2 separate regions of the Homo sapiens genome follow, and region 2 is linked to region 1. Evidence: fine-mapped expression QTL. Tissue or cell type: whole blood. Region 1 holds a variant in brackets; the other region holds the start of a gene. All regions are shown on one strand. Distances are between the middles of the regions.

Region 1 (8,095 bases):
GAAGTTTAATCCCTGCTCTTAGCGGGTTCAGTGTCTAAAGGAAGAGACAAGTACAAAAACTGCAGAGGAAGAAACTGTTGTAGACAGAATAAATACAGGTTTCTTGGAGTAAAGATATCTAACTTTTAAAAATGTATATTTCCAGGGAAAAGACATTAGGAAAGGCTTCCTGGAGAACGACATCTGAGTCTTGAAGAACAGGCAGGAGTTATCCAGGTGAAGATAAGGGAAAAAGCCAGGCAGTTGAAGAAATAGAACTAAATACGAGCGGCTTGTAGACAGCAAAGGTAGTTTTAATGTGTTGTTTTTGTTTTTGTTTTTTGAGACAGAGTCTCGCTCTGTCACCCAGGCTGGAGTGCAGTGGTGTAATCTCGGCTCACTGCGACCTCTGCATCCCAGGTTCAAGTGATTCTCCTGCCTCAGCCTCCTGAGTAGATGGGACTACAGGTGCGTGCCACCATGCCTGGCTAATTTTTGTATTTTTAGTAGAGATGGGGTTTTGCCATGTTAGCCAGGTTGGTCTTGAACTCTTGACCTCAGGTGATCCACCCACCTCGGCCTCCCAAAATGCTGGGATTACAGGCATGAGCCACCGCGCCTCAGTTTAAGTGTATTTTAAGGCACAGTTTGTTCAGTAAAGCTTAGTTCTTAAAGTTCCATTTGATTACCTAACTTTGGCTGGGATGACAAAATGTAAGACAAATGTCAGTTAGATTTTTCTAGTACAGAATACTGGTTTTGATTTTTCCCCCCAACTTGAAAGGCCAAAGGACATACTAATAAAATTGTTTTAAAATTTACATTGGAATAGAGAGAATTTTTTACTGGGCAGCCTGATATGGCAATATAAATGCCTTTATATGTTCTCAATTCTTGTCTCCTCAGGTCAAATAAGAGAATTAAACCAACGGAAGATGATGAAGGAATGTCCTGCCCACCCTCCCAGAGCTAATAAGTAGTCTTGCTGGGGAAGAGGCCAATGCAAAGCTAACTTCTTTCTGATGAGGAAGGGGAGTAGGGAGAGAACCTTGTGAAAAAAACATCTCAGCCTTGGTAAAGATGGGCTGTAGGGCACACACTTGTTTATTCAGTTATATCAACATAGCTAACTCCATGTTAGAGACCATGCTGAGCAATTTGACATGTGCTGTCTCAGTGCTGCCAATGTTTGAAGTGAATACTATTGTCTCCATTTTACAGATGAGAAACTGTCGAAAAGTTTAACTAGGATGTCTCAGGTTTAACCATTATGCAAAACAGCCTACCCTCAAATATCACCTGGACTGCTACAGACAACTGGGTTCTGATTCCTTAGGTGTCTTGGTGAAGATGGTATGGAGGCTTTTATGATGTCAAGGGGTCAAAAATTTACCTGCCATGGCCTAACAATACAGAGAACTGTCCAGATGTGTTCAGTCCCAGGATCCTGCAGGTTGGACAATTGCAGTAGGTTGGCAAGAACTTTTATGGCTCAGCACTATTTGCCACAATGGGCTCCTCAGTATATCATAACAATTCTTACATGTACACACACATATACAATAATCTGTCCCTTTTATATATGGCCTTATATCGTGCTGTCTCTTCCTTGCACTTCATGCATTCATATGAGTTTATGCAACTTCGTCTGTGTAATCCCAGCACTTTGGGAGGCCGAGGCAGGCAGATCACTTGAGGTCAGTAGTTCAAGACCAGCCTGGCCAACATGGTGAAACCCTGTATCTACTAAAAATACAAAAATCAGCCAAGCATGATGGGGCACACGTATAATCCCAACTACTTGGGAGGCTGAGGCAGGAGAATCCCTTGAGCCTGGGAGGTGGAAGTGGAGGTTAGCCGAGTTCGCACCACTGCACTCCAGCCTAGGCGACAGAGTGAGACTCCGTCTCAAAAAAAAAAAAAAAGACTCAGGTTGCCATAGCCCCTCACCCTCCCTCTCCCATCTGAGATACAATTCATCACAAAGAGACACTCCACATGACACAGAGTCTCTCCTTTCCTCACTTTTTCAGCAAAGATAGATAGGGAGAAGGGCTGCCTAATAACAGCAGTGAAGATGCTGTTATTCATCACTGAGATGGTCCTTTATGAAGCTGAGAACCAAGAATTCTCTTTAAGCCTTGGCATCTCAGATCATTCTGGTCTTTTTTTAAAAGGGTTGCATTCTGCTGAGCAGTGGGATAAACAAGCCACTGCCATCACTGTAACTGCTGCTGGCTGCTATGCAGCTCACCACCACTGCCTCCACTGCCTCTGCTAAACAGATAAAGGAATGTATGTCTCTGGCTCAGTAAGGGTGTCTGTAATGGGCCTCAAGCACAGGAGTGTGACATATGGTATGAGAAAATCTGTGTACATAAACACGTGAGCCACCCCCAAAAGAAGACTGTCTACAGAAGCACAAAGAAAAACAGACAATCTTAATGGATGACAATTTTGTATGTGTATATTTGTGAATAAGGCTGTTTTCAAGCAATTTTCCCTGACCATGGATGTTGCTAACTTTGTGTGTGACACTGCAGATGACAGGAGGTGTGTCTAAGGACAGTGTATGAATGCACCTTCATATAAGCAGGAAAGGAGGTAAAAAGACAGGATGTGGCAGTGTGATGGGGTAGCAACAGCAACAAACACAGATGACATTTATGTTCAAGGGGCTCTAGAAAGGTAGATGCTATAAAAGTACCATGGTTCAACCATATTGCTGTTATCAGTCCAGCATTTCTGCTTTATAATGTATGTTTCAGTAGCTTCATTACACAGGTGGCTTCCGCTTAATGGTTGAGAGTACTGGCTCTGGAAGCAGACTTAGGCAAGACCCTGAACTGAGGTTTCCCCATTGATAGAGATAATGTACTGTACTGCCCTTATAGGGTTTTGTAAAAATTAAGATTAAAATTCAAATTAGGACAAGGCCTGGTATATCACAGGTGATCAAAACATTTTAATTTTGGGAGACTGAGGTGGGAGGATTGCTTGAGCCCAGGAGTTTGAGACCAGCCTGGGCAACACAGCAAGACCCCAACTCTAGAAAAATTTTTTAAAATTAGCCAGGCATGGTGGCATGTGCCTGCAGTCCCAGCTCCGAGGGAAGCTGGGGTGGGGAGGATCGCTTGAGCCCAAGAGGTCAAGGTTACAGTAAGCTGTGATCGTGCCACTGCACTACAGCTTGGCTGACAGAGTGAGACCCTGTCCCCAAAACAACACCACTTTAATTTGCATCCTTATTATAAAAACTATTATCAAACAGAAACTTTGGTTTGTATAGTTTGGCATGAATTTTCTTAAAATTATTTCTATTGCCGAGGTCAACTATGACCTAACTACAAAACTCAAAGGACCCTTGGCAGCCTCTCTTTCCCTTAAGTGACCTCTCAGCATTTGGTGACGTCGTGAACTTTTCCTAGCCTTCCCTTAACTCCCATGACACCACCTCCTCCTGGTTTTCCTCCTACTCTCCCAGCCACTCCCCAGTCTCCTTTGCTGGCTCTTAAGTCTTAGAGTTAACTAGTCGTTCAAAGACCAGACTTGATACTGGACTCACTCAGAAGGATATAGGATATATTTCTCTCCTGAGCTGTTGCAACTGACTTCCAATTTATCTCCCTATTTCTGCCCTTGCCACCATCCCCATGTTTAGTCTCAATAGTAGCTACAAGAATGCTCCTTTGAAAATATAGACTGCTTGACAGAAAACAACAGTGCAAAAGTGATATGCCTTCAGCATGATCCTTGACTTTATGTTCAGATGAAACTATTGTTAAGTTGAAAGTATCTCAATTTATGATGGGCTTATCCCAATGCGACCTCATCGTAAGTCAAAGAGCAGCTGTAGAAGTCAAATTATGTTACTCATCTGCTTAAAACCCTCTCTA[A/G]TGGGGCCCTCAAACAATGGAAAGCACAGCAATGGAAAGTCTGAGGGCCTTTACACCTTCTGTTCCCCTTCCTGGAACACTCTCCTCCTTCAGTATTCATGACTTTCTCAGGTCTTTATTGAAACGTCACTGTTTCAGTGATATCTTTCCAGATAAGATTTAAAATTGAATTCTTAAAAAAAGAACTTACAGGAATACACATCTTGGGGCAGGGTGGGGGGTGGATTTAAGTTCTCCTGCACCAATACTCTCTATCTTCCACCTTTATTTTCCTTTATAGCAATTATCACCATCTAACATACTATATATTCTCTTTACCTATTTTGTTTAGTGTTTGATTTGCTCCACTAAAATAGAACTTCCATTGCGTGCAGGCGTTTTTGTCAGTTGTGTTCACTGATGTATCTCCAGTACCTAGACTAGGAATGTTTTAGTAGCTAAATACATTCCTAAAGGAATGTATGTCTCTGGCTCAGTAAGGGTGTAGGCACATAGTAGGCACTCAAATATTTGTTGAGTGAATGAATACACTGAAACCTGAAGGTCAACAAGGAGCATTCTATAACAATATGCCCAATATTTAGTGGCTTCAGCAACTAACTGAACAAACTATGGGGAGAATCTTCTATGTAAAAGGCATTCAACTGGGCACCTTCCACTAGGCACTAAAGTTCCCTTTGACAAATGGTTATTAAGCATATGGACTTGGCTCCCAAGGAAAAAGTATAGAGGGAAGACAAACAAATCAGCAGATATTTTCAATAATATACAGAAAGTTCTATAACAAAAGTTAGTCAAGGTGTAGAAGTAGATCAGAGGAAGACATTTGGGGCTGCCAGGGAAGCCTTCTCAGAGATAGCAGGTGTCACCTGCAAAGGACTTTGAAGGATAAGTGAAAATGGCAGGCAAATGGGGCAAGGGTAGAGGATCCAAAGGTGAGTACGATGTTGCCCTAATCCTCAGGGAGTGTACAAAACAGCAAGGGTTATAAGAGAAGGCCAAAAATAACAAGAGTTGGCAAACTAATGCCATGGGAAGCAAAACAAAGCCCTAGGGAAGAGCAAACAGGAATTAAATTAAATATTCCCTGAAGGTTAGTTAGCTAAGCTTAAGTAACACTCTTTTTGTTCACTGAGATAGTGGTGGTGGTGACAGATATGCTACAAAAGAATAAAAACAATTACTATCCCACTAAAACAAAGTTTAATGATTAAAAAAGAAATCACTATATTTTTCTTCCCCAAAGGCTGGTAAGTGGCAGATTTTATTGAATCATTCTGGAATGCCTATAAAGGTGGGTGCTCTGAAGGCCTCTATCACATGGATCTTATTGGCAAGACTTCTCTGATACACAGGTTCTCTACTGCCTTGAACCTGGGAAAAGGGGGCTGACAGGGAAGGAGCCTTTCTTATCCTGTCTTCCATAGATTGAGGATTTGGGAAATGCTTGTTCACACTTCCAGTTCTCCTTTAAAGAGGGAAAGCGCAAATTGTGTAGAATTTTTGCAATTGAGCTTCAGTTTGGAATCTAGTACGGTAGTTCCCAGGAGGGGATGATGCTCTGAAGGAATGCAAATCTGGCAAATCAAGGCCAGGGGAACAGCCCATTAGTCATACAAAACAAAACAGGCACAAAGAAGTTTAAATCATCTCTGTTCACTTTGTATGCTACAAAGTCCTGGAACTCCTAGGATGGCCAAGTAAAAACTACAGTTTTTTCTTAGTGCTGTTTTTAATTCAGCAGTAGCTCAGAGGATCTACATAGAAAGAACTAAATCTTGACTATGTTCCATGGCAGAGAAAATGTATTCATCATTTCTCTTGAAATTGGTCATCCATTCACTACTGCTAAAATTAATTAATTTTATAAAATACTTATATTTGCTGTGAGTTTATGCCACATTCCTTTCCTCTAAAATATGAATAACTCTTGAGTTCATTACTTCACTAATTGTATGCTGATTCCTTCAATCCTATCTCTGCGCCATCTAACTTACTGTTTTTATTAGATTTTTAATTATAAAAATAAAAACATTCATTTTACATATATAAAGCAGCATAGAAGTACAATTTCCTACCTACTACTCTTTCGGTGCTGAATATCATTCTATACCATTCCCTAGGCTTACTCATATATACACAGGGTATACAAAATTTTCTTAAAGGGTGTTTTTCTTGCCTTTTATTCAATTACAAAAATGGGATCATATTATATACATTACTTGGCAGCTTTCATTTTTCTCTTCCCAATGTATCACAGTCATTTCTCTAGCTCAATTTATTTATTTTTAATTTTTTTAGAGATGGGGTCTCTCTATTTTGCCCAGGCTGGACTCAAACTCCTGGGCTTAAGTGACCCAAAAGGAGAAGGCACGCCACCATGCGCAGCCTCCAGCCCAATGTATATAGATCTCTTTCAATAGCTGTGTGGTATTCCCTACTATGAATATACTACAATTTATCAAACTATTTCTTAAAATGTGTTATTTCTATATTTTTTTTACCATCACAAAGATGCTTTATTTGTATATGACAGACTGACAAAATTAGATAGCTGGGTATTAAGAGTATATATTTTAAAGTTTGTTTTTTTTTTGAGACGGAGTCTTTTTCTCGTTGCCCAGGCTGGAGTGCAGTGGCACAATCTCAGCTCACTGTAGCCTCCACCTCCTAGGTTCAAAGATGCATATTACCTTAATTTTTACACTCTGACAAGCAAAACATAGTATCTCATGGTTTTAATTTGCATTAGCCAGACTCACAGTGCTTTTAAGCATCCTTTAATGTTTATTGCCTTTTTTCTGTGAACAGCCTATTTATGTCTTTTGTGCCTACTTACCTATTACAGTCTGTCTCTACAGTTCTTTTTACCTATCAGATTTTAACACCAATTCATATGGTGAAATTCCAGACCGTTGTATTTTGACTTTTATTGTATCTCTCGCCATAAAAAGATGAGTTCAGATGAACAAAGTGCATAGTGCCTGACACATAGTGCTATGTAGATGTTTTTAAAAATAAACAATTGAAATTTCTAAGTTTTTAAGGTGCACATCATTTAATGACATGCTCCTGTTAGTAAGTCATTTTTAAGATGTGACTTATAGTAACACAGGACTCAGTCACATGCAGTTGCTGTGATTTCTTTTACTAATTCTCCCATGGTTGGACATTTAGGTTATTTCCCCTCACACAATTTTTTTTTTTTTTTTTTTTGAGACAGGGTCTCACTTTGTTGTCCAGGCTGGAGTGCAGTGGCATGATCATAGCTCACTGCAGCCTCGACCTCCTGGGCTCAAGGGTTCCTCTCACCTTAGCCTCCTGCACAGCTGGGGCCACAGGCACACACCACCACACCTGGTTAATTTTTTTATTTTTTTGTAGAGATGGGATCTCATTTTGTTGCCTAGGCTGGTCTCAAACTCCTGGGCTCAAGCTATCCTACTGCCTTCACCTCCTAAAGTGTTGGGATTACAGGCATGAGCCACCATGCCCAGCTATTTCCCACTTTTGATATCACAAATAATGCTGCAACAAATTTTTTTGTGCATAGATCTTTGAAAAAAAAATGCCTTATTTTGTCTTGTGTATTGCTTATACATAAGACAGTTTTAATGACCAATGAACTTGAAAATATCTATTTGTGTATCATGTTGATCAATTTTGAATATCACTGCCCTTTTGTAGTCAGTCCAAAATCTATAAGTTTTTCTATTAATAGTAAGTATAAGATCTATTCTTCTGGCTGGGTGCGGTGGCTCACACCTGTAATCCTAGCACTTTGGGAGGCTGAGGCAGGAGGATCACTTGAGGTCAGGAGTTTGAGACCAGCCTCGCCAATACGGTGAAACCCCCATCTCTGCTAAAAATACACAAATTAGCCAGGCATGGTGGCGCGTGCCTGTAATCCCAGCTGCTCTGGAGGCTGAAGCAGGAGAAATACTTGAACCTGGGAGGCAGAGGTTGCAGTTGAGCCAAGATCGTACCATTGTACTCCAGCCTGGGCAATAAAGTGAGACTCTGTCTCAAAAAAAAAAAAAAAAAAAAAAATTCTATTCTTACCTTTCTAACCATTTCTGTCTTCTTTACATGCTTTCTTTCTCTCAAGCCTGTATGTCTTTAAGGTTCAGTCCTAAATCTTTACTGCTTCTCTCCAGTGTGTTCCTCCTCTTGACATCTCATTCAGGTATTCACCTTCATCACTCATTTCCATAAAGATG
Region 2 (8,101 bases), 24 kb after region 1:
TCATAATTGTTACGTTAAAATTATTGTGTGCTACAGAGGAGAGGTATCAAATTTCCTTGTCAATTGTGTCTTTGCCTATGGCTGCCCTAAAACTTTTAGTCATCCACGCACAATTGTTGTGTTGTTTTGGTCCTCTTTAGAAAGTGTTTTTTTTTGTTGTTGCTGTTGTTGTTTTTTGAGATTCATTATTTATTCTTGATAATGTTTTCTTTGTTAAATTTGTTTTTTTAAATTATACTTTAAGTTCTAGGGTACATGTGCACAACGTGCAGTTTTGTTACATATGTATACATGTGCCATGTTGGTTTGCTGCACCCATTAATTCGTCATTTACATTAGGTATTTCTCCTAGTGCTATCCCTCCCCCATCCCCCCACCCCACGACAGGCCCCAGTGTGTGATGTTCCCTGCCCTGTGTCCAAATGTTCTCATTGTTCAATTCCCAACTATGAGTGAGAACATGCGGTATTTGGTTTTCTGTCCTTGTGATAGTTTGCTGAGAATGATGGTTTCCAGCTTCATCCATGTCCCTACAAAGGACATGAACTCATCCTTTTTTATGGCTGCATAGTATTCCATCGTGTATATGTGTCATTTTTTCTTAATCCAGTCTATCATTGATGGACATTTGGGTTGGTTCCAAGTCTTTGCTATGGTGAATAGTGCTGCAATAAACATACATGTGCATGTGTCTTTATCGTAGCATGATTTATAATCCTTTGGGTATATACCCAGTAATGGGATGGCTGGGTCAAATGGTATTTCTAGTTCTAGATCCTTGAGGAATCACCACAGTGTCTTCCACAATGGTTGACCTAGTTTACACTCCCACCAACAGTGTAAAAACGTAACTATTCCTCCACATCCTCTCCAGCACCTGTTGTTTCCTCTTGAATGCAGGTCTCCATTAACTTTGGAGATTGTTACATGAGAATAGAGGAAAAACTTTCAGAACTCATGGAGAGCTAAAATGCTCATGAATATCAAGCAGAATAGGAATTAACTAAGGGGACTGAACTAATCTTTTTGACTTTTTGCTTAAACATTGCTGATCTTTTGCTTTGTTTTTCAGAGCCTTGAAACTTTTCTTTTGAGCTATTGACAGCTTTTAACAATTTAGTATACTCCAATCAACAAAATTTGGAGCATATTTGTTTCTCTCTACCTGATTTCTCCAGAATTTGTAAACTATTTGTGAGTATTCTTAACTTGTGCCAATACAGTTATTTGCATAAGTGCAGTAAGAATCTGTTTTCATTTGTAACAGGACACAGTTGGAGAAACTGATTATTTTACCAAGGCTTTGAGTGGAAAGGTGTACTTTCCTTTAAGTAATCAAACCTGACTTATGGAGCCAATAAAAGCCCTTGGGAAAACTGGCCTCACACTTTACAAAGTCCCTGTACAGGGTTTCTGATATGTGCTAAGTAAAGAATGTCATTTTCTGACAGGTCCAGGAGCCCCTGGTTTATCATGGAACATCAAAAAGAGGAAATTCACCCTACTCATAGGTATTTGATGGTACAAATCCATGGCTGAGCTTGGCTTTAAAAAGAATCTTATCTGAGATTCCTTCTATGGAACAAAGTTCCTTCAAAGCCAATTTTAAAAAGCCTATGTGAAAAATAATTATTCTTGCTACACTTTATATAAATAATCTGGTCAAATATAATAAAGCAAATCAGTCCTACCATGATTTGTCTTTAGTAAAAATGGAAAACTGGAGAGAGAAAAATTGTTTCAAAACTTACAGTCCACTTGTTGTTAGATACTAGTCTTGCCTAATTTTTTCAATTTTTATTATTTTCTACAGTTTAGGCTGAATTCTAATTTTTCCTGGCTACAAGTCTCCAAAATAATATTTTTAATTTTTTTCTTTTCTTTTCCTTTTTTTTCCTAATTAGGAGTCACTGAAAACAGCTGTGCTTTTGTAAAGCCCTGCAAACTGAAGCTAGACAACTTAAACTTCAGAAGAAAATAACAGCAACCTATTTACACGCATAAGCCACTTTCATACCTGCCTACTGATGTATGGACTTCAGAATAACGTGGCCTATGTATATTTTCCAGGATTGTTCTTTTGTTTGTTGTTTTTCACCCTTCCTCCCCCTATTTTCTCTTCACAAGACATGGGAGTTCACAGCCTTCTAAAAATTAGCTTTCCTAATAACTTGGGACTTACCTGTCTAGGAATAAACCATCCTAGCATGAGCGATCAGATGAAATCTGGGACCAAAGACTCATTTTTCTTCTAAAATGCTTTCTCCAAAAAAAAATTTTTTTTAAAAAAAAGAAAAGGGGGCAAATGTAAAGGAAAATATCTTGGGCCCCCAAATCACTAAGTTAAAAGGAAAATTCAAGCTAGGAACTACTTAAGACAAACTTGCCTCCCATTCTATTCAAAGTCATCCCTCTGCTCATTGAGATAAATGTGTATCTGACTGCCTCCTTAGGAAAGGTAAATCAGAAACTCAAAAGAATGCAACCATTTGTCTCCCACCTACCCGTGACCTGGAAGCCCCCTTCCCGCTTCAAGTTGTCCCGCCTTTCCGAACCCAACCAGTGTTCATTTTACATATATTGATTGATGTCTTATATGTCCCTAAAACGCATAAAACCAAGCTGTGCTCTGACCACCTTGGGCACATGTTGTCAGGACCTCCTGAGGCTGTGTCACTGCGTGCGCATCCTCAACCTTGGCAAAATAAACTTTCTAAATTAACTGATACCTGTCTCAAATTTTTGGGGTTCACAAGGTTTAGTTATAAATGCTTCTTATGGAGCATGATTTTCTTACAAGCGAGGCAGGAGAATCGGATCTGGAGGCAGGGAACCTAGGGCTGTTTCACGCTGACTTCCTAGAACTAAATTGAAAGTAAAACCCTAACTTCCCACACCAAGTAACAAAAGAACCAGAGGCTTCTCCCTTTCCAAACCCCCACCTTTTCTGTGTGGCAGATGGGAAATTGAAAGTACCTCTGATTGGTTGCAAAAAGCAAAATTACGCTAAGAAGTAAGTTATCCCTTAAAAAAAATTATTCTTTCTGCAACCAATCAGATCTTCCCATAGGAGTGTAACTATGTAACTTCACCATCTGATTGCACGCCACGTCTTCGTTTGCATATAAGGGCAACTTTGTAACTTCACTTTAGCCTTTCATTGGTTGCTTTTCACAGCCAATTGTGGGTCACCACTTCATTTACATGAGATGAGTACCAAGTGGCCAATAGGAGACTTCAATGGGGTATTAGGGCCCCTGAGCTGCTGCTCCACACCCCAAACACAGGAGTGTCCTTTCATTTTCAGTAAATCCCTGCTTTTGGCGGGGCATGGTGGCTCATGCCTGTAATCCCAGCACTTCGGGAGGCCAAGGCAGGTGGATCACCTGAGGTCAGCAGTTTGAGACCAGCCTGACCAACATGATGAAACCCTGTCTCTAATAAAAATAAAGAATTAGCCAGGCTTGGTGGCGCATGCCTGTAATCATCCCAGCTACTTGGAAGGCTGAGGCATGAGAATCACTTGAACCCAGGAGGCGGAGGTTGCAGTGAGCCGAGATCGTGTCACTGCACTCCCGCATGGGCAACAGAGCAAGACTCCATCTCAAAACAACAACAACAACAAACACCTTCAAGGTCTGGCGTGGCGGCTCACACCAGTAATCCCAGCACTTTGGGAGGCGGAGGCAGGCGTTTCACCTGAGGTCGGGAGTTCGAGAGCAGCCTGACCAACATGGAGAAACCCTGTCTCTACTAAAAGTACAATATTAGCTGGGCATGGTGGCGCATGCCTGTAATCCCAGCCACTCGGGAGGCTGAGTGAGGCAGGAGAATTGTTTGAACCAGGGAGGTGGAGGTTGCAGTGAGCCGAGATCGCGCCATTGCACTCCAGCCTAGGCAACAAGGGCGAAACCTCATCCTAAAAAAACAAAAACAAACAAACACCTTCGGGCTTTGTGAGTGCTGGTCTCAGAAAAGCACTCAGTCTTCCTCCAAGGGCTAACTTACTTCTTCAGGAGTTGGGTGCCTTTGAGAAATTTCCCAAACCACTACAGAGGAACAACTTCTCCCTTCGTTCACCACTCTACCAAGCACTTGGCTTTTGTACCTTATTGCAATTATTTATCTTCTAATCTTCTAGAGCCTAGAGAATTAGACTGTAATGTGCCTTAAATGCAGAGGTTTCTCTTACTCTTCTCTGGAGCAATGCAGACGTTTGTTGGTTGAAGGATCAAACTCCAAAGTCCCTCCCAGCCTTGGAACTGTCTCCACGAGTCATAACCATACTTATCTATGTTTAGATAGAGAACTTACGCGTTCGACCCAGCATATTTAGGGGCTCCATTAAAGTAATAATCATTATTACTAAGGTGAATTTACAGGCGTACTAGAACACAACCTAACAAGAGATAATTATTCAAAGCTCACAACGGCACCAAGCACGGTGCTTTCTTTTCCTTCATTAGAAGCCACGGCTTCTCCCCTACCTTTCCCATACCTTTCCCAAAACTCTCTCAAAATTGCGAGCCTTGGTCATGGCCTTTATCACCTCCCGCAGAGACTGAGTCATGCTGGTCATCGTGGACGGTTTTCCAGCCTTTGGGCTTTGCGCAAGAACGAACTTCGGAAGAGCTGGAAAGTCCAGAAGTTAGTGAAAGAAGGAGGACACAAAGGGCGAAGAGCCCGCACCCTTCTCCGCCCCTAGGAGCGCAAGAGGCCGGGAGTCAGGCGAGCTGGCAGCCCCGGTGGTCCGCGATTTGCTCACTGACTTTCCTCGCACCCTTGTGACGAAGCGCGCATGCGCGCTTCGCACCCACCGCCCCGGCGGCTCCCTTGCGGCGCAGCTGCACCAGTTTTCCGAGAGCAGCGCATTTCCCCGCCGGGCGGTTGATGCGGGAGCGCCATGACACAGGCGCCTGCGCAGAGCCGCGCGTTGGCCTCCTGTTCCGCTTAAAGGGGCGGTGCAGAGGCGGCAGGAAGATGGAGTTGGGGAGTTGCCTGGAGGGCGGGAGGGAGGCGGCGGAGGAAGAGGGCGAGCCTGAGGTGAAAAAGCGGCGACTTCTGTGTGTGGAGTTTGCCTCGGTCGCAAGCTGCGATGCCGCAGTGGCTCAGTGCTTCCTGGCCGAGAACGACTGGGAGATGGAAGTACGCTTTCGCTGTCCTCGCTTCCGGCTCCATTACCTAGGTCGGTGGAGCGCACAAACCTCATCCCTTGTGCCTTTGTTTTTCAGAGGGCTCTGAACTCCTACTTCGAGCCTCCGGTGGAGGAGAGCGCCTTGGAACGCCGACCTGAAACCATCTCTGAGCCCAAGACCTAGTAAGTGATGAGGGGAGCGGGAGCCAGTCCGCACGGAGGCAGTTTGATACCAGGTAGCCCTGCGCGTCCTGGGACCTGCCGTGGAGCTGGGCGGACGATGCTGAGGCAGATCTCCAAGCTGCGTAGCCAGAGGAGCAGGGCTTGCGTTGCTGCTGCTGCGCGGAGTTGCGCCCCAGCAGCGGATCTAACACTGCACCAGACTGTCGCTTCGAACGTGATTTGGGGTCCAGGGAGGAAAAGATGGAAATGTAATGTTTAACTCAAATGAAAGGAAATAAGTAAGCGAGAGGTTTGAAACAAATGAACGAAGGCTAAACCTTCTATCGAAAAATGGCAACTTGGAAGTCTCCTTGCTTCCTGTATTGTTTATTTATTCTAGGCCCTAGGCTGACCGGCCAGAATAACAGGTTTGTTGTTGTTGTTATTTTTTTTTAATGCACACCTACTCCTGTTATTTCAGTGCCCCTCTCCAGTTCCTGCACTTAAAAAGTGTAGCTGCCTTACAAGGCCCTCTACTATTTGGCTCCATAACTTAGAACCTGCCTTTCCAGGTTCCAGGCCTATCAAACTTTTACTTTTTTCCAACGGGTCATTTTCTCCTGTCTTTGAAACTTCGTAAAGATCTTTATTACCTGTGCCTGGAATTTTTTTCTTTTCCCTTCCTTGCTAATATTTGTCTTAAAGCCCCAAGCTGAGACATGATTTATCTCTAGGAAGCTTTTCCTGATGTCCTAAGTCTGGGTAAGAGTCCCCTTTTAGGTACTCTTATAGCATCCTGCATGACCCCTGTTACAATACCTTAGTCCGTATTATAATTGCTGTTCATTATTTTATGTCTCCTACTAGACTGCACATCTAGTAAGGAGTATCTGTTTTGTACATTGTTAATTTCCCAAAGTCTGACACAACATTTGACACATAATAAGCTCCCAATAAATATTTACTGAATGTATAAAATTCTCCCAGCTATATGTACAACCTGTAAAATTGACTGTTCATAGTGGAGACTTTATTTTCCCTTTGGTCTTTTCAGCTACACTGGCTTACAGATGTGATAAGATATTTTCTTTAGGTTCCTTTCTCTGTCTTGCCTCTTGTTGGGGAATTGTTTACTCACCCACAGTGATTTGTCTCTGGCTCCCGTTTTACTAACCAGAGCAAGTTGGACTAGGAGGTGTTTGCCTAGCTCAAACTGGCCAGTCAGATCCTCTCCTTGGTTTCAGAATTAGGACCAAGAGAGTCAAGTCTGAGTCTTCCTATGGAGCTGGAACTGTAACATGTTAACTTAGCACCTGTGAGGATTCATACATATCTTTTTTTGTGTACAGAGAAGCTGAGAACAGAGGTCTGCAGAGAGACAATGAAGCAGAGGGAAGTTGAAGTGTAGGATTGAGAGAAAGCCCTTAACTGCCCTTCCTTAAACATGGCTGTATTTCTGTACCAGGCTCTGTGACATGTTTGTTTCCTTATAAATTCTCCTGTTTTGGTCAAACCAACCTGAGTTAATGTCTGTTGGTTGCAACAGACTATATTGTAACCAATAAATAGTAACAAAATAAGTGGATTTCCTGTAATAGGCCCTCAGAAAAGATGCGGATCAAGCTGATCAATGGTGTCATGGCTATTAGGATTCTCTTACCCCGGAATGGTAAATTGGCAAAAACAAGCAAAGGTGTTGATTAGGCTGTGGTCTCTTGTCTCTCAGAACTCAGGTCAAGTATGAATGAGAGTGAGGTTTTAAAGTTTAGTTTGCTCAAGAGAGAAAAATGGGGAAGGGGCAAACTTCAGCGTGTTTCTAAGGCCTGTGACCTGATTAGATTTTTGATGTTGGCTTTAGCAAAAATGAAAGGGAAAAAAAAATTGATTGGAAGATTTTATGACCAGAAAAACTCAACCCTGCTGAGCAAGGGCATTGGCTGTCTTAAATGAATGGCGCAGGAATCTCAATTCTGGAGTGAATTCCTGGGATATCAACAAAAATTGAAATTGAACACTAAAGTGATTTAGTCCCCTACATTAGAATCTATCTTCAGTGTCTCTGATGAGAGACAAGGGAAATCCTCTTAAAACAGCTATGCTGAATCTTAGCTGCATATTGGAATTATCTGGGGAATTTAAAAAAAAAACCAGAGATTCTAATTTCATTAGTCTTGAGTGGGGCCCATTATTCCTTATTGGCTTTTTTTTTTTTTTTTATTAGCTGTGCAGGTAATTCTAATGCAGAGCCAGCATTGAAAGCCCGTGTCCCAGAGCCTTGTTATTTAGAGTGTGGACTCTGGACCAGCAGCGTGCCACTGCTACTCGGGAATTTGTTAGACATGCAGAATCTTAGGTCTCACCCAGACCTACTGAATCAGAATCTGTATTTTGACAAGATCTCCAGGTGATTTAAAATTGAGGAGCACTGGCCTAACACATAAAACCTAAGACACCAGATATACTGACAAAAGCACTTCCTCCTCTGCTTAGGAATGAAGTCAACAAATCATGCCCCTAAAGTTTGCCAGTCCCTTTCTGTTCCCTTAGTATTTCTGTACAGCAACGTTTTAGAGTTTATTTCCCTTTTCATTTTTCCAAAAGGAAATTTTTAATACAGTTGCCTGGTTTTTCTTGCTGCATTAAATATTAAATATTGTGGGTGTTGCATAAATTGCAGAGATATTTGTATTAGGTTCTTGTGTTGCTATAAATACCTGAGACTGGGTAATTTATAAAGAAAAGAGATTTAATTGGCTAACAGTTCTGCAGGCTCTACTGGAAGCATGGCCCCAGCCTCTGCTGGGC

What was found. PIP is the estimated chance that this variant, and not a neighbour inherited with it, causes the effect.
Region 2: ACOT13 starts here. The variant in region 1 is fine-mapped to the expression of ACOT13 in whole blood (TOPMed, PIP above 0.99).

Annotation. Positions count from the first base shown.
Region 1 is chr6:24,687,536-24,695,630 of GRCh38, reverse strand. The region is part of intron 1 of ACOT13 (acyl-CoA thioesterase 13); the gene reads right to left. It overlaps LOC124901278 (a long non-coding RNA gene), which reads left to right. Exons shown (of 2, transcript XR_007059508.1): 1 at 1-287; 2 at 886-5,924. Among named protein-coding and RNA genes, the nearest start is that of ACOT13, 25 kb to the right of the region's middle. The variant A/G (reference allele first, on the strand shown) is at 3,876.
Region 2 is chr6:24,663,742-24,671,842 of GRCh38, reverse strand. ACOT13 (acyl-CoA thioesterase 13) reads right to left here and starts at 4,766. Exons shown (of 3, transcript NM_018473.4): 1 at 4,499-4,766. The coding sequence starts at 4,579. It overlaps TDP2 (tyrosyl-DNA phosphodiesterase 2), which reads left to right and starts at 4,944. Exons shown (of 7, transcript NM_016614.3): 1 at 4,944-5,145; 2 at 5,232-5,317. The coding sequence starts at 4,981. LOC124901279 (a long non-coding RNA gene) reads left to right here. Exons shown (of 2, transcript XR_007059509.1): 1 at 1-1,194; 2 at 1,905-2,726. RefSeq lists enhancers at 4,728-5,022, 4,554-5,225, 5,226-5,898.